4 separate regions of the Homo sapiens genome follow, and regions 1, 2 and 3 are each linked to region 4. Evidence: fine-mapped expression QTL. A gene starts in region 4. Each other region holds a variant in brackets. All regions are shown on one strand. Distances are from middle to middle.

Region 1 (5,302 bases), 40 kb after region 4:
GGCTGTGGGCTGAATGAGGGCAGGAAGAACAGGGTCAATGGGAAAGGACAGCCCAGAAAAGAGAATTCACCACCACCTGTGGTCTCCCACTGCTTTGGTAGGAACCTTGTAAACACAGCAGCAGCCCCCAGGAAAGTCTTGGAAGAAGGGAGAAGCTGATCAGATTTAGAGACTGAGACATCTGGGCCTCCAACCCAAGGCTCCCCGGGCCCTAAAAAGCCAGACTCCCGTCTCCTTAGCCCTTTCCCTCACCGACCAGCAGGTGGCACCACAAACAGGGATTTCAAAACCAAAACTAAATTAAAGTGGAAACTCAGATCTTTTGTTTATGCAAATAGTTCATTCCCTCCAACATTCCTCCGGGAATGGTCCCCCCTCCACTCCACAGAAAACCCTCCCCTCCCTGCTGTGCATGACGCGGGCTCCCTCTGCACACAGTGCACGAAGACGCTGTCGGGAGAGCCCAGGATTCAACACGGGCCTTGAGAAATGTGAGTAAGGGTGATGGGCAACCAGGTGGGAGGGAGAAGCCAGGGGAGAAGCCAGGGCATGGGAGGCAATTCAGGGAGACAGGAACACCCTTCTCTCTTCACACACCTCATCAGTTCCACTGTGCACACGCGTGGACACACACAACACACGCCCCATCCCTCCTCCTAGGGATCAGAGGAGACTTCATACATAGATGCTCATGCCATGGTCCTTTCTTCCCTCTGGGCTCTTGGCAGGGAGCAGCGAGAGGAGGGGACCCCTTGCCCAGGACGGGACACTCTGTGCCTGTGTCCCCCACTCCACAGATGGTTTCTCCCAGACGCTCTTGCTGAACCTGTGGGAGCCCTTTCAGAGACCCACGGGTGGAAACCCTCACCCTCCATTAACTGGTCCCAAGCCAGTCCTATTCCTGGAAGGGGAGGGGAGGGACGCGTCCGGGCAGGGGAGGAGGCTGGAAAGGGAGTGTGAGGGGAGTGTGGTGGCCTCTGGACTGGACACTGCCCTGGAGAGTGACCCGATGCAGCAGCTGCACAGGCCATCCTCCCCACCCACGCACCCCTGCTGAGAACATGTCTGTGAGGTTCAGGGTGGGCAGAGAGGAGAATGCCCAGTGGTATGGCCGTCTCATCCCCTGCCACAGCCACTGCCCACATGGCAAGAGTGCTGAACCCCTCCAGCTCCAGATACTCTCTTTTGTTTTGGCAGGTGGCTCTTGTACCTCCTGGTGCCGGCCCTGTTCTGCAGGGCAGGAGGCTCCATTCCCATCCCTCAGAAGTTATTTGGGGAGGTGACTTCCCCTCTGTTCCCCAAGCCTTACCCCAACAACTTTGAAACAACCACTGTGATCACAGTCCCCACGGGATACAGGGTGAAGCTCGTCTTCCAGCAGTTTGACCTGGAGCCTTCTGAAGGCTGCTTCTATGATTATGTCAAGGTAGGGGCAGGATGGGCGGGCAGAGGGGAGACAAAACTGGGCCCTCTGGGATCTGGGATCTGTATGGCATGCACACCCCCAGACACAGCCCAGCCCCACAAGAGCTGATGGCCAACGGCCTCTCTGAGAGCCCGGGGATGCCCTGGATGGGCGCTCACTGGTGTAGAGGCCCTCGGTGAGCACTGAGGGGAGAAGCACAGAGAAGGAAGGGGACAGGACCCACTCAGGAAATTCAACATCCACTGAGTCAGGAAAACCTTCCCCATCTGCTGTCTAGCTGAGAGTCTTTGGGAAACCACTGTGCCTCAGCTTCCCTGTCTCCAAGGAAATGATTGACATGGCTGCCTGCTTCAACAGGAACACAGGGACATGAGGAGGAGAAATGTGGGCTCTGGCAGCACAGGAATAGCCTTCAGCAAGGACAGTGTGCTCAGAACCCTCACCTCTGTGGCAACCAAGGGTACCTTCCCAGGCCTGTCTTTCTCTATCCAGTAAAAATGAGATTCAGGGCTCAAGCAGAGCCTGCGAAGGTCCAACAACTACCATTCCCAGGAGACCCCTGGAGATTATGCGTGAATTACATGACAATGGCACGTCTTACCGGCTCAGAAGACTTGGCGAGTGTGCAGTGTTGGGGGAGGGCGTTTGCTGGCAGAGTCAAGGAGAGGTTGAGGAGGCTGTGAGGAGGAAGGAAGAGGGACGAGGCAGTGCCTGCTGACACTGAGATGGGTGGGCTTCAGGGCTCATGTTCCGCCGAGGGCATCAGGAGGCACTCGAGGTGTGAATGGTTTGATTAGGCTGAGGTGGAATCTGAAGACAGAAAATAAAGCGGAGCTGTCTGAGCTCTGGGAATGAGGGGCAGGTAAAGGCTGGGTACAGACAACCAGGACCCCAGGGGAACAGGCCATAGGAGGTGGTGGGGATGGAGAAGGACCTGAAACCTGCCAGAGGAGCAGAAAACAGGGAAAGGGTGAGGTACCCAGTCCAGGACAACACGCAAAGAGTGAGTCAGTGGGAGACTCAGGGAACAGCTGAAAGTCACATGGGGAAGTTTGCAGCAGCTGAGCCCAGCAGGTAGTGACCAGCCAGAGCCATTGTGGTGCATGATGCACTCTGGGCGAGACAAGGAGGACCATCACTGAGCCACCACGTGCGCCACTCCGCAACAGATCTTCTTCCTACCCCCTGTCCTTCTTCCACCAGATCTCTGCTGATAAGAAAAGCCTGGGGAGGTTCTGTGGGCAACTGGGTTCTCCACTGGGCAACCCCCCGGGAAAGAAGGAATTTATGTCCCAAGGGAACAAGATGCTGCTGACCTTCCACACAGACTTCTCCAACGAGGAGAATGGGACCATCATGTTCTACAAGGGCTTCCTGGCCTACTACCAAGCTGTGGGTGAGTAGCCCCCCAGGGATCCCTTTTCTCTGACCTCAGCCATATTGAATGGGGGGCCAAGAAAGGGAATCTTGAATGCAAAGAAGCCGAAAGCCTGGCTTTCCTTGTTCCTCCCCTCGAGAGAGCTTTTCCTAACGAGGCCTGTCAACCTGGGCTCTGTCCCCATGGAGCAGTCCCCAGAGAGCATTGGAGAGGCCTGGAGGTCCAGGTGGCCTAAAGATGCCTTTGTCTTTAGGTCTCTGGTGAGTGACCTCCCTAAGATCAGAGCCACTACTCAGGTCTCCCAGCAGAAGCTTAACCCTCCTTCCTGAATGCCTTCCAGACCTTGATGAATGTGCTTCCCGGAGCAAAT[C/T]AGGGGAGGAGGATCCCCAGCCCCAGTGCCAGCACCTGTGTCACAACTACGTTGGAGGCTACTTCTGTTCCTGCCGTCCAGGCTATGAGCTTCAGGAAGACAGGCATTCCTGCCAGGGTGAGCCAGAGTGGTGTAGCAGAGGGGAAGGGGTTGAGCCAGGGCTTGCTGGGCCAGCTGGAGTCCCCCGTAATGCCCTGTGGCTCTGCTCTCACAGCTGAGTGCAGCAGCGAGCTGTACACGGAGGCATCAGGCTACATCTCCAGCCTGGAGTACCCTCGGTCCTACCCCCCTGACCTGCGCTGCAACTACAGCATCCGGGTGGAGCGGGGCCTCACCCTGCACCTCAAGTTCCTGGAGCCTTTTGATATTGATGACCACCAGCAAGTACACTGCCCCTATGACCAGCTACAGGTACAGCCGTCCTACCCCTGAAAGACCCCTTCCTCCCCTTCTGTCTGCACTTGGCTCCTCTTGTCCCAACTTCCTCCTGGATCCCCTGGCCAGCTGGGGCAGGAACGGCCAACATCACCCATGGGCTGGGTAAGTTCCCACACAACTAGAATTGGGTCATGGGGATCCCTTTTCACCTTCCCCTGAAAACACACATAAGGCAGGATTTCATCACCACCACCACCACCCTGGCCACCAGGCTACTACCCAGTTGGCCCTGTGTAAAAACGTCCAAGCTGAAAAAAAAAAACCCTCCTCCCCTACTAGATCTATGCCAACGGGAAGAACATTGGCGAGTTCTGTGGGAAGCAAAGGCCCCCCGACCTCGACACCAGCAGCAATGCTGTGGATCTGCTGTTCTTCACAGATGAGTCGGGGGACAGCCGGGGCTGGAAGCTGCGCTACACCACCGAGAGTAAGGCTCCCTGCAGGCCTCCCTCGATGGCCAGCAATGGGGAAAAGGGGGGAAGAAGGAAGGACAAGTGGCTCTGAAATAAATATGCCCCCTGGTCTCCCCAACAGTCATCAAGTGCCCCCAGCCCAAGACCCTAGACGAGTTCACCATCATCCAGAACCTGCAGCCTCAGTACCAGTTCCGTGACTACTTCATTGCTACCTGCAAGCAAGGCTACCAGCTCATAGAGGTAAGAGCCCAGGGCTGAGGGGAGAGAGCCGGCCCAGCACCCCAGGAGGAATTCAGGTGGTGGGTTCACAGAGGATTTAGTCTCACCCCAGCTGGAGTCGTAGACGTTTCAGCTGGAAGAGTCTCCTGGTCCACCAGCTCTCAAACTTGCTGCACACTTAAAACAGAGAGTTTAAAATCCTGGAAGATTGCTTGAGCCCATTCATTCAAGGCCCCTGTGAATAGCCACTGCACTCCAGCCTGAGCAATATAGCAAGACTCTGTCTCTGAAAAATAAAAATAAGCAAATAAATACTGAAGATGAGGGCCCCCAACAGAGACTCTGATTCCATTGATCTAGAGTAGAGCCTGAACATCAAGACTATTTAAAGCTACCCAGGTGATTCTAATGCACAGCCAAGTTTAAGAACTATTGCCCTAGTCCAATAACTCAAGAGAGCTGAAGGAACTGAAAAGGCAGGGTGGAGATGTAGTGACTCGTCAACATCACGTAGCGATTGTGTACGGCAGGGACTAGGACGCCAATCTCCTGCCTCCTGCTCCGGGGCTCTTTTACACATGTTGGTGGTCTCCCCCTGCGCCCACCGTCCTGTCCTCGGCTCTGCAGATTCAGGAGGGAATATGGTTTTATCCATTGATCAATCTCACAAAAGCTGGTAAACTAAAAATCTCTGTCTCTGGACAGAGACCCAAGACTGGACATCCCATCGTTGTTCAACAGGTCCACATGGAACACTTAATCAGAATCAAAGAAGAGACCTAGGATATGTCCTTAAGTCACAGTTAATTCATTTAATGCACACTTTAAGTGTCTACTGTCAGGCACTGTCCTAGATGTGGGAGGTTCAGTAAAAAGAAACCCACATAGTCACACAGCCTTTGTGGAGCTCACATTTGAATGTTGCATCAAGTCGAGTTCACCTGATGCATTGTTCTTTACTCCAAGGTGCTTCCAGCTCCATCAGGAGGATTGGGTGGGTGTCCTGGGTCCAGAAGAATGGAGACTACCAACCTCTTTGCTCCTATTACAACCCT
Region 2 (5,357 bases), 130 kb before region 4:
CAGATAAAGTTTTTTGTTGTTGTTGTTGTTTTTGTTTGTTTGTTTGTTTGAGATAGGGTCTTTCTCTGTCACCTAGGCTGGAGTGCAGTAGCCCGATCACAGCTCACTTTAGCATTAAACTCCGGAGCTCAAACAATCCTACTGCCTTGGCCTCCAGAGTAGCTGGAACACAGGTGCGTGTCACCATGCCTGGCTAATTTTTTATTTTTTGTAAAGATGATGTATCGCTATGTTGCCCATGCTGGCAGGTTAAGTTCTCAACAGAAAAGTTCACTTTAATTGAGGCTTTTACAGACTTTTCTTCTAGACACCCCTCCACATACTACATTGGCCTCCTGCCCCAACTTCTCTCCTGAAGCTGCCTTTGCCATAATCATAGGGACCCTCTGGGTGCCACATTCAGTTGTTCATTATACATATTGATCTCTTAACAGCATTTGAAACTACTAACCATTCCTTCTTATAACTTTCTCTTTCCTTGGTTTTTATCATATCATTCTCTTCTGCCATTCCTTTTACCTGTCTAACTGTTCCTGCTTCATCTCTTTCTTGGACTCTTCTTCTTAAATATTGGCATTGCAAGGGCTTCACCTTTAGCCTGCTGTTCTTCTGGAACTATATTCTGTGCCTGAGTGACCTCATTCATGTTCATAAATTCAATCACCATTTATACACTGAAGATTTCCCAAGTTCATCTCTCATTTAAACAACTCTTTTGAGAATTAAACCCATTTCTCCAACTATTTCCTGGTATTTCCTGGACATCTTCACCCAAATGTTCAATGAGCGCCTCAAAAAATCAAGAACATAACAATTCTTGAACATATTCCCCTGTTCCCAGAATATAAGTTCAGGAAAATAGGAACTCTTACCAATATTTTTTATTGCTATATCCCTAGAGCTTATAATATTGTCAGACACATATTAAGTGCTCAGTTAATATTGGTTAAATGAATGGAAATTTTCCCCACCAACCTGTTCTTCCCTCTGTATAGCATTAATATTTGCTCAATTATAGCAACATGGTTTCTTGTCATCTCTTTTTTCCTTAATCCTTATATCCCATTGGTTTTCTATGTTCTGTGTATTCAACCTGCTCAATCTAAAGTCCATTTCTTCTCCTACATTCTCACTGATATTTTTCAGGCATTTATAATCTCTCCTTTTGTATCCTCACTGTTCTTATTCATATGATGGGGATAATAATAGGACTTTTCTCATAGGACAGTCATAAGCTTCAGTGAAGTAATATACCCAAACTCTTAGTATGGTGCTGGGATGACTCAGTAAATTTGGCGAGACAGCTGTATTTCTTATGTATCTATATGGATCTCTACAAATACATCTACATGTAGTAAGAGGACAGTCTAGTTAACCTCCATATTTTAGTGTAAGTCCTAACCCAGGAGAGAATGTATTGAACAGATAAATAAATTTGCTTTGTAATGTCAATCAAGTCATGTCCTTGTTGGCCTTCAGATTATTCATTTATTAATTCAGTTAACTAGACTAGCTAGGATCATTTTATAGCATTTTCATATTACAAAGCACGTTCATAGCCATTAACTCATCTTATTTCCATGGCTATTATTCATCTTATTTCCATAGCATTTATTATCATTAGCACCCCAATTTTCAGGTGAAATAACTGAGGCTTAGGATATTAGTTGTCCATAACCCGTCCACTACTTGTTAAAAGCAGAATCAGGATTTGAACCCAGTCTTCTAATGCTAAGTCCTATTGTTCTAAATATTCAGGTGAAAATATATGCATTTTATTTTCGTGTTTCAGGAAGTTGTTTGTGGTCTCTTATTGCACTGTTTTTTCTTGAGTCAGTTGGTGTTGAAGGATGGAACTTAGTGGTAGAAGCCACTCTAGAGCCCTAGTTCCTTTAGCTTACAGAAGAAAAAGAAACAATAAAAATCCATTTCCTTTAGAGGTTGTGAAATCAGAGGAAAAAGCCACCTCATCCCACACCCCAGTTGTAGTCAAGAGCCAGACTTTGCTGAGGCATTTTGGCAGATTGAACCCTTTGTCTGTGTTGACATAGATGCTGAGGGGAGCTTTCTTTATTATGAGATAAAGAGACAGGATCTGAGATTATAAAAGCTTTCACATGTCAGAAAAAGAACCAGTGGGAACAAGTTCATTCATGAAGCTGCCTTAAGGAACTGCAGGTGTTGAGGCACTGGGAGAGACATACACAAATGGATAGATTTCAGGTTTCCAGGACCTCCACCCAGTCACCATCATAAGTACTCATTTGGGGAATCCAGATTGTTCATTGCCTAGCCCAGTGGTTTTTCAAGTATGTTTTGTGGACCTTCAGAGTCAGAAGAATTTGGGGTATTTTCACTTGTTGCCCTATTTACATGATTTTTCTAAATCATTTGAAAGTAAGTTGCAGACATTATTTTCTTTTTTAAATTCTTCAGCATTCATCTTTAAAACATGAGGACATTCTCCCATATAGCCATAATAGGAGAATATTATGACCATCGAAGACATTCATAATTCCTAAATATCATTTATAACCATTCCACACTAAAAATTCCTCAATGGTCCCAAAATGTCTTTTATAGCTTTTTTAAAAGTCCAGGATTCAAGCACGTCTCCTGTAATGTAGAAGAATTCTCTTGCTTTTTTTACCCATGACATTGTCTTGAGAAGAATCCAGATCAGTTGTTGTCTTGATGAATATCTCACATACTGCCTGTGTATTTTTGTGTCCTTGTGGTCTCAATTAACTTGTTCAGGGAAACTGGCAGTCTACTACGCTGCTGAGAGTATAAATTGAGGTCATCTTCCTGGAGGGAAATGGGTAATATATTTTAAAACTTTCACAG[A/G]CTTTAAATTAAGCTGGAGCCCGATTAGATTCAGGATAAACACTTCTAGCAGGACATTTCATAAATAATCCATGTATAACGCACTGCATCATCTTACTAGGCACATGATGTCAGATTGTCCCACTATTGATGATGTTAAATTTGTTCACTTGGTTCAGATGGTGTCAGCCACACTTTGCAAGTGTAACTTTCACCTAGAGGACATAGCATCCAGTTATGATCCTTATCTAAATCAATCATTGGAGATTGCAAAATGTTGATTTCCAAATTCTGTTATTCTTTCTACTTTTACTAACCAGAGTTTTCCTCAAAAAGGAATTTTTCTCCCTCCACCCTTTCATCCCCCAACCCACCCTGAGCATCATGGTAGACTCGGAATTTTAAAGATTCTATGGTTTTTTTTTAACCATTGCCTTGATTATATTCCTTTTTCTTTCTTTTTTTTAATTATACTTTAAGTTTCAGGGTACATGTGCACATGGTGCAGGTTAGTTACATACGTATACATGTGCCATGCTGGTGCGCTGCACCCACTAACTCGTCATCTAGCATTAGGTATATCTCCCAATGCTATCCCTCCCCGTTCCCCCAACCCCACCACAGTCCCCAGAGTGTGATATTCCCCATCCTGTGTCCATGTGATCTCATTGTTCAATTCCCACCTATAAGTGAGAATATGCGGTGTTTGGTTTTTTGTTCTTGCTATAGTTTACGGAGAATGATGATTTCCAATTTCATCCATGTCCCTACAAAGGACATGAACTTATCATTTTTTATGGCTGCATAGTATTCCATGGTGTATATGTGCCACATTTTCTTAATCCAGTCTATCGTTGTTGGACATTTGGGTTGGTTGCAAGTCTTTGCTATTGTGAATAGTGCCGCAATAAACTTACGTGTGCATGTGTCTTTATAGCAGCATGATTTATAGTCCTTTGGGAATATACCCAGTAATGGGATGGCTGGGTCAAATGGTATTTCTAGTTCTAGATCCCTGAGGAATCGCCACACTGACTTCCACAATGGCTGAACTAGTTTACAGTCCCACCAACAGTGTAAAAGTGTTCCTATTTCTCCACATTCTCTCCAGCACCTGTTGCTTCCTGACTTTTTAATGATTGCCATTCTAACTGGTGTGAGATGGTATCTCATTGTGGTTTTGATTTGCATTCTCTGATGGCCAGTGATGATGAGCATTTTTTCATGTGTCTTTTGGCTGCATAAATATCCTCTTTTGAGAAGTGTCTGTTCATATCCTTTGCCCACTTTTTGATGGGTTTTTTTTTTCTTGTAAATTTGTTTGAGTTCATTCTAGATTCTGGATATTGGCCCTTTGTCAGATGAGTAGGTTGCGAAAATTTTCTCCCATTTTGTAGGTTGCATGTTCACTCTGATGGTAGTTTCTTTTGCTGTGCAGAAGCTGTTTAATTTAATTAGATCCCATTTGTCAATTTTGTCTTTAGTTGCCATTGCTTTTGGTGTTTTAGACATGAAGTCCTTGCCCATACCTATGTCCTGAATGGTAATGCCTAGGTTTTCTTTTAGAGTTTTTATGGGTTTAGGTCTAACGTTTAAGTCTTTAATCCATCTTGAATTAATTTTTGTATAAGGTGTAAGGAAGGGATCCAGTTTCAGCTTTCTACATATGGCTAGCCAGTTTTTCCAGCACCATTTATTAAATAGGGAATCCTTTCCCCATTGCTTGTTTTTCTCAGGTTTGTCAAAGATCAGATGGTTGTAGATATGCAGCGTTATTTCTGAGGGCTCTGTTCTATTCCATTGATGTATATCTCTGTTTTGGTACCAGTACCATGCTGTTTTGGTTACCGTAGCCTTGTAGTATAGTTTGAAGTCAGGTAGCGTGATGCCTCCAGCTTTGTTCTTTTGGCTTAGGATTGACTTGGCGATGTGGGCTCTTTTTTGGTTCCATATGAACTTTAAAGTATTTTTTTCCAATTCTGTGAAGAAAGTCATTGGTAGCTTGAGGAGGATGGCATTGAATCTATAAATTACCTTGGGCAGTATGGCCATTTTCACAATATTGATTCTTCCTACCCATGAGCATGGAATGTTCTTCCATTTGTTTGTATCCTCTTTTATTACACTGAGCAGTGGTTTGTAGTTCTCCCTGAAGAGGTCCTTCACATCCCTTGTAAGTTGGATTCCTAGGTATTTTATTCTCTTTGAAGCAATTGTGAATGGGAGTTCACTCATGATTTGGCTCTCTGTTTGTCTGTTATTGGTGTATAAGAATGCTTGTGATTTTTATACATTGATTTTGTATCCTGAGACTTTGCTGAAGTTGCTTATCAGCTTAAGGAGATTTTGGGCTGAGACAGTGGGGTTTTCTAGATATATAATCATGTCGTCTGCAAACAGGAACAATTTGACTTCCTCTTTTCCTAATTGAATACCCTTTATTTCCTTCTCCTGCCTAATTGCCCTGGCCAGAACTTCCAACACTACGTTGAATAGGAGTGGTGAGAGAGGGCATCCCTGTCTTCTGCCAG
Region 3 (5,291 bases), 59 kb after region 4:
ATAAAAAAGGATGTGAGTACAAAACGTAGCAAGAGGGAAATCTTGGTAGTGATGGAATTGTTTCGTATCTTGACTGCAGAGGTGCTCACATGAGTCTCCAATGTAGTAAAATAACACAAAACTGCCCTTGCACATTGTACCAACATGAGTTTCCTGGTTTAGATATTGTACTGTAGTTACCTAAGATGTAGCCATTAGGGGAAATAGCGCCTCTCTGTACTAACTTTGCAACTTCTTGTGAATATGTCAAAAGAAAAAGGGTTTTGTTAAATCATTATTTTAAAAACCATGGCAGAGTTTGTGGATCTGATCAAGATTAAATAAAGCTGTGTTGTGTCCGTGTGTGTGTGTGTGTGTGTGTGTGTGTGTGTGTGTGTGTGTGTGAGACGGAATCTCACTCTGCTGCCCAGGCTGGAATGCAGTGGTGCCATCTCGGCTCACTGCAATACCAGGTTCAAGCGATTCTCCTGCCTCAGCCTCCCGAGTAGCTGGGATTACAAGCACCTGCCACCACACCTGGCTAATTTTTGTATTTTTAGTAGAGACAAGGTTTCACTGTGTTGGTCAGGCTGCTCTCAAACTCCTGACCTCATGTGATCCATCCTCCCTGGCCTCCCAAAGTGCTGGGATTACAGGTGTGAGTCACCACGCCTCACATCATATTTTCAATTTTTAAAATAATAACCAATATGCAGGAAAAAAGTCACATTTCCACTGAATATGTTTCTGATTCTAGCAGTCACTGTAAAGGAAACTTTAGAGTCCCAGGATCCCTTCTAGCCCCTTCTGGGCTGGTCCAGTTTCAAGTAGGTTCAAGCCCTCTTGACCACCGGACATTGTCTTTCCTCCCTGGCATGAGTTGCTGACCCACCAGTCCATTTTCTTCTGACCAAAGAAAAGTGACAATTCACCTTCTTCAAAAAGCTAACTCTTTTCCTGAGTTTCAGATGAAGCGGACATATGTTCCCAAGTAACTTGCAAGGTACTACGATGGATACCCTTTAAACACAATGAATGACTTTCTAGCCCCTCTAGGACCTGATGACAAGCTCTTCCCAGCTCTGAAGTCTCTGATCATGATTCATTTAGGTCTTCTCCCTGCCATTCACCCAGAGAAATGACCTTGCAGCACAGTCAACGATGCAAAGCCCATTCCCGTCATGCCGTACAAGGTGGCAGCAAAGAGGGAAATTCTTCACCAATACCTCAGCCCATCAGCAAGGGCAGAACCCAAATAGACTGGTGATTCTCCGAGAGGGATGAACTTCCTTTTTCTGTTACTTGTCAGATTCCAGGTTAATTTTTTGCTATTGCCCCAAGTATAAAAAAAGAAGAACAATATCCCTTTCACAGACCATGTTTCTAAATCTTAATATTCCTCCAATGCCTTTTTATCTCTAGAAGAATCCTCCTCTCACGGAAACACTCTCACCCAGGGCACACTGTCAACTCCATTGCTCCTGCAATGACAGGAAGGGTGAGGAGGTGGCTATGAGGCATACAGTTCAGGAGTGACACAGTGACTTTATGCTGCTTGGTTGACCATATAATCCTCCCAGGGACTCCCTGTTGTAATTCCCTTCAATTCTTCAGGCCCTTCAATTAGAGTTCCTCTGGTTACCTCATCACGTTTACCCTGCGGTCTAAGGTCAACTGTTGAATTTAGCCCTCTTGGTCTATGGAATATCAAAGTCCATTCTTGATGGGCCCAAACCAACCTTTTTTGGCTTCTAGTAAAAACTGCCCTCCTGAAAGCCACGTGTCACATCAAATAGGTCAGATTCCCCCTCAGCTCTTCCTCTCAGACCTCCGCTTTCCTAAGACGCCCTGTTAGGGCAACCGCTGTCCTAAGATAGTTGTCCTGTCCTCAGTTTTTAAAATGCTAAGTCTCTATTCTGTAGTCATTTCTCATCACTAATCATTCTTTTGGAAGAGGAATCTTTTCTTTTCCTTCCCCTAGAAAATAGAAGGGAGAGTTTTGGGGTCCATCCTTACCGAGATTTTCTGCTATGTCATCTTGGTACAGAGTTCAGTCTAATGAAAACATTGTCACAAATTGATTAAAACCACCAGGAAAGCAGACAAGAGCATGCTCAATTTCTTTAGTTTTTCTTTTTTGTTGTCATAATATTGCATGATACAATGAGTATTAGAGGAAAATTAACTTTCCGTTCACATATTGAAACAATTTCTACTTAAAGAAGATCTTAAACAGCCAACTCAAACTATTGTACATGGATTTCTGAATGAGGTGGGGTTTTTTTATTTTGCTTTGTTCCAGATAATGTCTCACTCTGGTTGCCCAGGCTGGAGTACAGTGGCATGATCACTGCAACCTTGACCTCCTGGGCTCAAGCGATCCTCCCAACTCAGCCTCCTGAGTAGCTGGGACTAAGGCACGCACCATCATGCCTAGCTAATTTTTATTTTTTATTTTTGTAGAGACAGGGTCTCCCTATGTTGCTCACACTGGTCTTGAATCCCTGGGCTCAAGCAATCCTCCCACCC[C/T]TGCCTCCCAAAGTGTTGGGATCACAGGTGTGAGCCACGCACCACATGACATTTAATGAGCTTCTTTTTTTTCTTATTTTTCTTTTCTTCTTTTTTTTTTTTTTTTTTTTTTGGCCAGGTAAATATTAATGAGTTTCAAAAGCAGAATGTGATGCCTTACACTGGCGATCTTCATACTAACCCACAATATTCAGTAAATCTCATTTGGAAGAGAGAAGAAAAGCTGAATTCCCTGTTTTCGTGACAATTAAATTAAATATTAGTTGCTGGATGCCCAATTTCAGTGACATAACAGCCTTCTCATCCCATTCCCCTTCTATAATTCTGAGGGTTTGGTGTGGAATGAGGTAAGTCACACAAAATTTGCTTATAAACATCCTTTATTGTACATAGACAGTGGATACTGAGAATGATCAAGTAAATGGAATTTTGAACAGGTAAAGAGGAAACAAAGAATTAAGGTATCCCTGTGGAATAGTGCAAGAAAGGAGTGCCCCACCCATAGTGTTATCTACAATAGGTACTCCGGGGAAAGGACCCCAAGGAGTCAGACCACAAATGTATGACCAGCACAATTCTATGATCAAACTCTACCTCTAGCAAGGCGTCTCAACAATCAAGTTCTATTTAAATCATTCGCTCGTGTCTTCTTTCAGTCATGATGAAATAATGAGAATATCATAAGGAACAGAAGGTAATGCATTGGTCACCACCCTTGGAGAGGCTGGTGGGATGTATCTGGATTAGTCCTCACGGGGGGTGCTATTTTCCTGCATAGTCTTCATTATCCAGTCAACATAGTTCTTTACCCGTGTGTAGAGCCCATAGGTCCCACACTGGGGCCCCCAGGACACCAGGCCAGCTGCGTAGAATTTGGTCTTGTCATTGGGATCCTGTACAGCAAAGGCCCCACCACTGTCCCCTTTACAGCTATCCATGCCCTTCTCTCCTCCAGCACAGATCATGTTAGGAGTGAAAACATAGGCCTCTGCATCTGCTGTGGGTTTCTCCACTTTCACTTCTTTGCATTTTCTTAAAGGAGCTACAGGTAACCTTGCCGCCTTGAGGCGAACAGCACGATCTCTCTTCTCTGTTCGGCCCCAGCCTGAGATCAGTCCCAGGTCCCCATCCATGAGGTTGTAGTCGGAAGAGGTGCCTGGTAGGCAGATGGGAGAGACGGTGGGTCCCATTTTCACTGGGTCTTTCAGCCGCACCAGTGCAATGTCATTATCAAAATTGGTTCGTCCTTCTGGGACTTCCAGCAGCTTCCATCCCGGATGAATAAACACATGCTCAGGAGTGAGCATCTTGGATTTTGCCAGCCGTGAGGTCTGCACTGAGGTGGACCCAACATACATTGTTGGCTCCCTGTTTCCCTCCACAACATGAGCAGCCGTCAGCACCCAGTACTCATTAATGAGCGCTCCACCAGCCCATGGGTTGTCAAAGAAGACTTGCCAGGGGAAGTTTTTAATATCTGCATCGGATCCTCCAATTATCCTCTGTTTTTCTTCAAAGGGTTCTCTGGGGACTCCACAGACTAGGAAGGAATAAAACAACACAGGGAAGGAGGAAGAAATGATGCTGGCTTCCTGCAAATCCTCCAACCACTCACATAATGTTACCTGCTAGGTTGCAGGATTCTCTAGTACAAAATAGTCAACCCTATTTGGTCAACAATCTCAATACCTGACCCACTCTGGCCTTACCTAAACATCCCGCTTTGCCGATGTCATAAGCTGGCTCATGGGAGAGCTCAGTTAAACGGAGGCAGTGTGTGAATCACTGAGTCCAGATGCACTAATGCCTCACACTATCCACAGTGCGACCCACAGCCCCCCTGGAGGCAGGGGTCCCCTTTGCACCTCCCAACTCGGCACATGAGGCCGGTGCCCAATCAAGAGCCAGTGCTGGAAACCCTTTTCTCACACAGATGGTGGAGGAGGAAAGATTTCTGCCTTCTTCAGATGCCCAGATCAAACTTTAATCACCTTCTTTACTGGAGTCCTAGTTGCACCTGAGTCCCTCCTAGTAAACCACAGGTCAGCCTAGGAAGTAGAGAGGGGTCCCTTCTTTGGCCCTGACCTCTCACTCCCAGTGACTGGTGCCATTACCATTCAGTTATACTAATAACTGAATTCAAGTGAAGCTGCTTACTTAAATCCCTTACTAGACAGCCTGGAGGGACTCCAAGTTGAGCACAATGGGCTGTGAACTTAGACAGACCTGGGCTCAAAGCCTGCCTTTGCCACTTGCTAACTCTGTGAACTTGCACCCCACCCATTCACATTTGACATTGGTCAGATAAGACCAATGACACCTAGCTCACAGGGCTGTTATACGGACACGAATGAGATAATAAATGCAACAAATCAGCTCAGTCTTCAGCTTTCAGTACCACCCAGGATGGTTATTATCCTATTGGATTTGCCTCAGCCTTCTGCTACCCAACTCTTATCTTCCTCATTCTTTGAATTCCTCTATATCTTGCTGCCCTATAAACTTTTAATATAATAACTAGGCTATTTAGCTAGACTTGTTTCTGAGTGTTGATTACTCACACACTCTCAGCTTTCAGGCCCTGTTTTTAGCAGTTCTGTATCTTCTCACTGCAGCTACATTACCAGACACCAACTGTCGCTGGCTGACGTTTCTATTTCCTTCCAGTTGGCCTGGCTTCAGTGCGGCTGAGGAGGTTCCCCACGGCCCTGGCAGCCCACGGCACAGTGATACTGCCACCTCACTGAGCTGGACTCTGGCAGGTCACTGTTCAGTCCTTTCCC
Region 4 (5,357 bases):
AGGGAACTTCAGGGAGCAGTGGTGGGCTGTGAGAAGGCCCTGGGAAAGGGAAGGGATAGATTAAGGGCAGAATTGAAACTAGAAAAAGATCTAGAAGTTTCCTGAGATCCTGATTGCTTATCCTCCTCCCAACTCATTTCAGTCCTGATCCCTTCACTCTGCACTTCTCCCAGCCAAGCCCCAACTTGAGGCCACTCTCCCAGAACACAGGATGGGGAGAAAGGAGAGAAGTGAAGATATATAGGACAGAGGGAGGGGGCAGAGAGGGGCAGGAATGGAGCAGAGGAATCAATGCTGAGCAACTGGACCCAGCAGAGCCGTCATCCTAAGGGATTATCGGGCTGGCCTAGAAACATGACAAATCCCGTCCCTGCTTCCCACCCCCACACCCAAGAGAACACATTCGAAACCGACACATTTCTATGTCCTCCACAAGACCATCAAACCACATTCCCTGAAACCCACTTTTTATACAGAACTCAATCCCAGTTCTTATCTACCCCATCCCTCTTCCCTTCAACCACCAGCCAATTCAGAATGGATGCGGGACTCATCAGACTCCAAATCTCCCCATCTTCTACCAGATTCAGCCTGGTGAGGGGCTGTGGGGAAGCATATTTCCTCCCCTTCCACATCACCCCCCACCCCAGCCTCCACGCTTGCTCTAATCCCATCATCATGCCAACACCCAGGCTCCCAAAGCACAATCATGAGGCAGAGGGAAACTGAGTCACCAAAAGGAACCTCATCCCCAGTATCTCACGGTGAGCAAGAAACCCTGATTTCCATTCTTTCCTCCAACCACACACCAGCAAGCCTTTGGCATGGGAAGGCTTTCTTACTGATGACCACCATAACCCCTTCCTGAATGCTGAGGAGAAAGCCACAAGATGGTGCACAGGAGGCGGTACAGGAAGTGGCAGGAGGCTAGGAGGCGAGGCTGAGGTCAGAGATGCAGGCAAGGAAGAGAGAGCGGTGGAAGGGCAGGGCTGGGCGCCCTCTGCACAGCTCCCCCTCCCACCCTGCTTGTCTTCCCAGGTCTCTGAGCCTCTGTCTCCTCTCCTCCTGGCCCCCTGCGGTCTCTGCGTTTGCTCCCTTTCACTCCTAGGCTCCCGGGCTCCTCCTTGACTCACTCTTTTCCTGATTTTCCTCATTCCTCCCTCTTTTTTCTGCCTCCACCTTTACCCTTTTCCATCCCCTCCTTACCCCCTCCCACGCCTCATCTCCGGTCTTCTCCTTCTCAGCTTTCCCTCTCATACTCATTTAGCGCCCCCCACACACCCACTTCTGCCCTTTCCTGCCAGTCTCCATCCGTTTCCACCTACCTGAGCCCTCTGCCCGCAAGCCCTCCCTCCCGTCCTCCCTCTCCGTCTGTCCGACAGCCCCGCCCAGCTGAATGTATCCGCTGTCTGCCAGAGAGGGCAGCTCTGGTAACCCACAGCCCAGCTGATGCAGGCAAAAGGGTCTGAATGCAGAGGCACACGCAAAAAACATACGTGCTCCGAATTGCTGAACTGCAGCAAATACTTTCTCCCCAGGATGGGATGGAGGCGAAGCAGATGGATCTGCCACACACCCTTAGCATGCGCCAGTGAAAGGGAGAGCCGCGGGGAGAGGCCTATCACCGGCTCGGGGGCAGTCCTTCCCAGACCCGAGGTAGCCACCAGCGTGTAGAAATTAGGGGAAGGGGAGAATAGAGACCCCAGGACGGGAATGGAGACCAAATGGGAGCAAGATGACCAGCAAGAGAAACGCATGGGTAGAGATGGACCAGAAAGGAAGATGTAGCTGGGGGAAGAGAAAGAGAGGAGACGGAGCAGGTCTGAGAACGGATGGGAAGGAGGGTGATCAGAAGAGGGCCAGACACCTGTCAGGTGCCAGGGAGCCTCGACACCTCCTTCCCACCCCCACCCCGCACGGCGCTGCCCGACGCCCCTCTTTCGGTACCCCCACCCCCACCTCACTCACCTTTGTTACAGGAGCAGGACGCGAGCAGAGAGGCCAGCAGAAGGGGCAGCAGCAGGAGGGTCATGGTGCGGCGTGGGGCAGGGCAGGGCCAGGCGTTTGCCTCCCCTGGGAGCCTCCAGCCTGCGGATTCCACCTTGCGGGAGGGATACAGGGGGTCTCCAAGGAGCGGGGTACAGCAGGGCAGGGACGGAAAGGAGCCTGCCGCCCACACTAGTCCATAAAGCGGGCCTGGGCAGATCCCAATCTGGGTAGCTGAGGCGGTGGACTTGCAGCGGCTTCCCGTTTCCCCCAGCCCAGCGTCCTCACTCTCTCACTCCCACCCCAACCCCGCTACTGCAGGATGACGTCAGCACAGCCGGGCAACGATTGATGGGGCCGCCGGCCAATCAGGTGACTGGGAGGGGGGGGGACCAGGTGCTGCAGCGGGGGAGGGAGCCAATGAGACTGGGGCGTCGGGGCTGGAGAGTTTCAAGGCTCCTTCCCCTGGCTGCAATTTTGGGGGAGCCGAGGAACTGCGGGGGCTGGGGAGGAAGCTGGAGAGCCACGGAGGGGGTGGGAAAGAAGAGGGACGTGGGGAGAAAGAAGCCAGAAGCCAGGGGGTGGGGAAGAGAGACGTCAGCGGGACCTGAGGGCGGCCAGGAGGGGTGGCACCGCGTCACCCCGCCCCCCAACTCTGCCATAACCTGTTTCCACAGCCCCTTCCATCCACAGATCCGTGCTGCGTGCCCTCTGGGAAGGGTGAAGTAAAACCCTCAGTCTGAGCCTGAGAAATCCTGGCATTTGTAGCCCAGGGCTGCGAGGAAGCCACAGGGCGGTCCGCAGGGCGGTATCGAGGCTCTGGGACCCAAGGAGGGGCAGGACGTCGTGCACCCCTCGCGCACGCACCTGTCGGGACCGGCCGCCTCCTCCTGCCTACCTGTCCTGCCTCCTTCGCCCCGAATTTCACCTTAAACCATGATGAACCAAGCCCAGTGGATTCTGAAGCCCGGGACGATGGCAGGTTCGAGAGAGAATTGGGCAGCTGGGGGCGGGGCACAATATTATTTAGGCGCCTCCACCCCACCTTCACAGAAATACATCTGGAAAGCATGGGCTGTCCTAGGGCTGGGGACTGGGGGTTACGGTCTCATCGATGACTCAGAGGGAGAGAAAACCCCCTGGGTCCCAAGCCAAAAAGAATAAAATTCTCCAGAATAGCCAACAAACTCCTCTCAGGCTGTCTGTTCCGGACTTTGAACTCAGCACCCCTCGGGCTCCACCTCCCTCCTAATGGCTCTTTAGGACCAAGAGTCTGGAATGCCACTTTGGGGTCCCAGTTGAGCACACTACCTGAGGGAGCTCTGAGAGCCAGGCCTACAGGGTGCTCTTCATGGTGGCAGCTGGCCATCCTCACCCCCTCCCCTCACATCTTCCAACATCACTCAGTCCCAGGATCTCAGGATATTGTTGGAACTCATCTCCACCTCACACAGCCAGACCAGCCTCAGGTGTCTCCCAGGAAAGACTGCCCCTCAGGCCCTGGGACGGTTCCCAAGCCTGCCAGAAATGAGGTGGAGGCCAACACTGACCTTTGGATGGCTGAGTTTTGGATGACTGACAGCCCCAGATCCTGCTCCAGGTTCCTTCCTCAGGAAGGATCCTGCTCCAGGTTCCTTCCTCAGGAAAAGCCAAGGTCAGGCGCAACTTTGCCAAATCCCTGCCCCTCCTTCAGGCTGGAGACACCACCCCCAAACTCACCATGCGGGGAGGGAAGAAGTCTGGTAGGGACTCTTATTGCAACAGGGCCCCAGCCTTATAAAAAGCCCTGGTAACCCGGCCATTACACATCCTGTCTCTGTGTGTGGAGCTGGCTGGAATCTCTCAGCCTCACCTGCCAGACAACACCCCCTCCTTCCTCACCCTGTCTCCTGCATTCTCCTGAAACCTTCATCCACACAATGCCTCCCAACCTCACTGGCTACTACCGCTTTGTCTCGCAGAAGAACATGGAGGACTACCTGCAAGCCCTAAGTAATGGCCTCGCCCTCCCAGACCCCTGTCACTCCCTTTCTCCCCTCTTCCTTCCTGCTTCTTGGTCCCATGGAGAAGAGGGAATGCCCGGGGTTGGACACTGTGGAAAGGCTCAGGCGGCTGGCACCAGACCTGGGATCCATTTCTAACCAGGCATTGGTAGGAGGGGGTGAATCCACAGTCCCAGACCCAAAGAAGGGAAACTCACAGCCCTGAGGGGCTGCTGCAGGCAGAGGAGCTCCTGGCTGGCTAGCAGCACCCCTACTAACAGGCAGCCCCCACAGACATCAGCTTGGCTGTGCGGAAGATCGCGCTGCTGCTGAAGCCGGACAAGGAGATCGAACACCAGGGCAACCACATGACGGTGAGGACGCTCAGCACCTTCCGAAACTACACTGTGCAGTTTGATGTGGGAGTGGAGTTTGAGGAGGACCTCAGGAGCGTGGACGGACGAAAATGCCAGGTACATTTCCCCTGGCTGGGCGGTGGCCGGAAGGAGGCATCACAGGAGACTCCTAACAACATGGGGCAAAACAAAGTGACCTTCCCCAGCCAGAGCAGCGGGGAGGAGGGGAATGGTCACCACAGCAGGGAATGCAGTCCCCAGGATACCAGTCTCCAGAACTAACAGGTCCTGGTGCTCCCTGTCTCTCTCCCACTTCTTCCCTGCCCCCTCTTATCACCAGCCCAAAGGGCAAAGAACAGGCCAACCCAGACCGAAGAGCAAACATTTGCCCACCCTCCAGCCTGTGACACTGTTGGTCACCCAGAGTCCCTTTTACTTTAGCATCAATAACTTCACTCTCCTGCATTTCTTTCTACTTCTTACATATTCCTTCTTAGCCTCCTTTGCAGATCCTAGTCCTCCTATTAATCCTTTAAACTGGAGTTTTCTCCGCAGAGTTTTGTTCTTAATGTCTTCTCCCTTTTGTCTGCCCACTATCCATAGGCTAAATCATCTACACCCATGCCTTCTGCTTCCATCTATAGGCTGCCCTTGGCATGAATTCTCCAGCCAGAGCCATCTCCTGAGCTCCAGGGCAATGTTTTCAACTGCCTACAAAATACAGTTGGCCCTCCATATTCATGGGTTCTGCATCCACAGCTTCAGCAAACTGCAAATGGAAAAATATTTGGGAAAAATAAAAATAAAAAATAACAATACAAAATGATACAAATAAAAAACAATACAGTATAGCAACTATTTACAGAGCATGTACATTGCATTAGGTATTATAAGTAATCTAGAGATGATTTAAAGCATATGGGAAAAGGCTGGGCGTGGTGGCTCACACCCATAATCCCAAGACTTTGGGAGGCTGAGGCAGGCAGATCACTTGAGGCCAGGAGTTCAAGACCAGCCTGGCCAACATGGTGAA

The links.
Region 1: its variant is fine-mapped to the expression of CLSTN3 in whole blood (TOPMed, PIP above 0.99).
Region 2: its variant is fine-mapped to the expression of CLSTN3 in whole blood (TOPMed, PIP above 0.99).
Region 3: its variant is fine-mapped to the expression of CLSTN3 in whole blood (INTERVAL, PIP above 0.99).

Annotation. Positions count from the first base shown.
Region 1 is chr12:7,087,576-7,092,877 of GRCh38, reverse strand. It overlaps C1R (complement C1r), which reads left to right and starts at 433. Exons shown (of 11, transcript NM_001733.7): 1 at 433-491; 2 at 1,198-1,426; 3 at 2,630-2,822; 4 at 3,145-3,291; 5 at 3,389-3,585; 6 at 3,892-4,039; 7 at 4,147-4,268. The coding sequence starts at 490. RefSeq lists an enhancer at 91-385. The variant C/T (reference allele first, on the strand shown) is at 3,175.
Region 2 is chr12:7,255,187-7,260,543 of GRCh38, reverse strand. No RefSeq gene overlaps it. Among named protein-coding and RNA genes, the nearest start is that of ACSM4, 46 kb to the left of the region's middle. RefSeq lists a silencer at 1,234-1,434. The variant A/G (reference allele first, on the strand shown) is at 2,848.
Region 3 is chr12:7,068,612-7,073,902 of GRCh38, reverse strand. C1S (complement C1s) reads right to left here. Exons shown (of 12, transcript NM_001734.5): 12 at 2,871-4,048. The coding sequence ends at 3,252. Among named protein-coding and RNA genes, the nearest start is that of C1S, 11 kb to the right of the region's middle. The variant C/T (reference allele first, on the strand shown) is at 2,509.
Region 4 is chr12:7,127,324-7,132,680 of GRCh38, reverse strand. It overlaps CLSTN3 (calsyntenin 3), which reads right to left and starts at 2,310. Exons shown (of 18, transcript NM_014718.4): 1 at 1,969-2,310. The coding sequence starts at 2,032. It overlaps RBP5 (retinol binding protein 5), which reads left to right and starts at 3,792. Exons shown (of 4, transcript NM_031491.4): 1 at 3,792-3,978; 2 at 4,263-4,441. The coding sequence starts at 3,906. RefSeq lists silencers at 1,294-1,363, 2,454-2,553 and an enhancer at 1,511-2,012.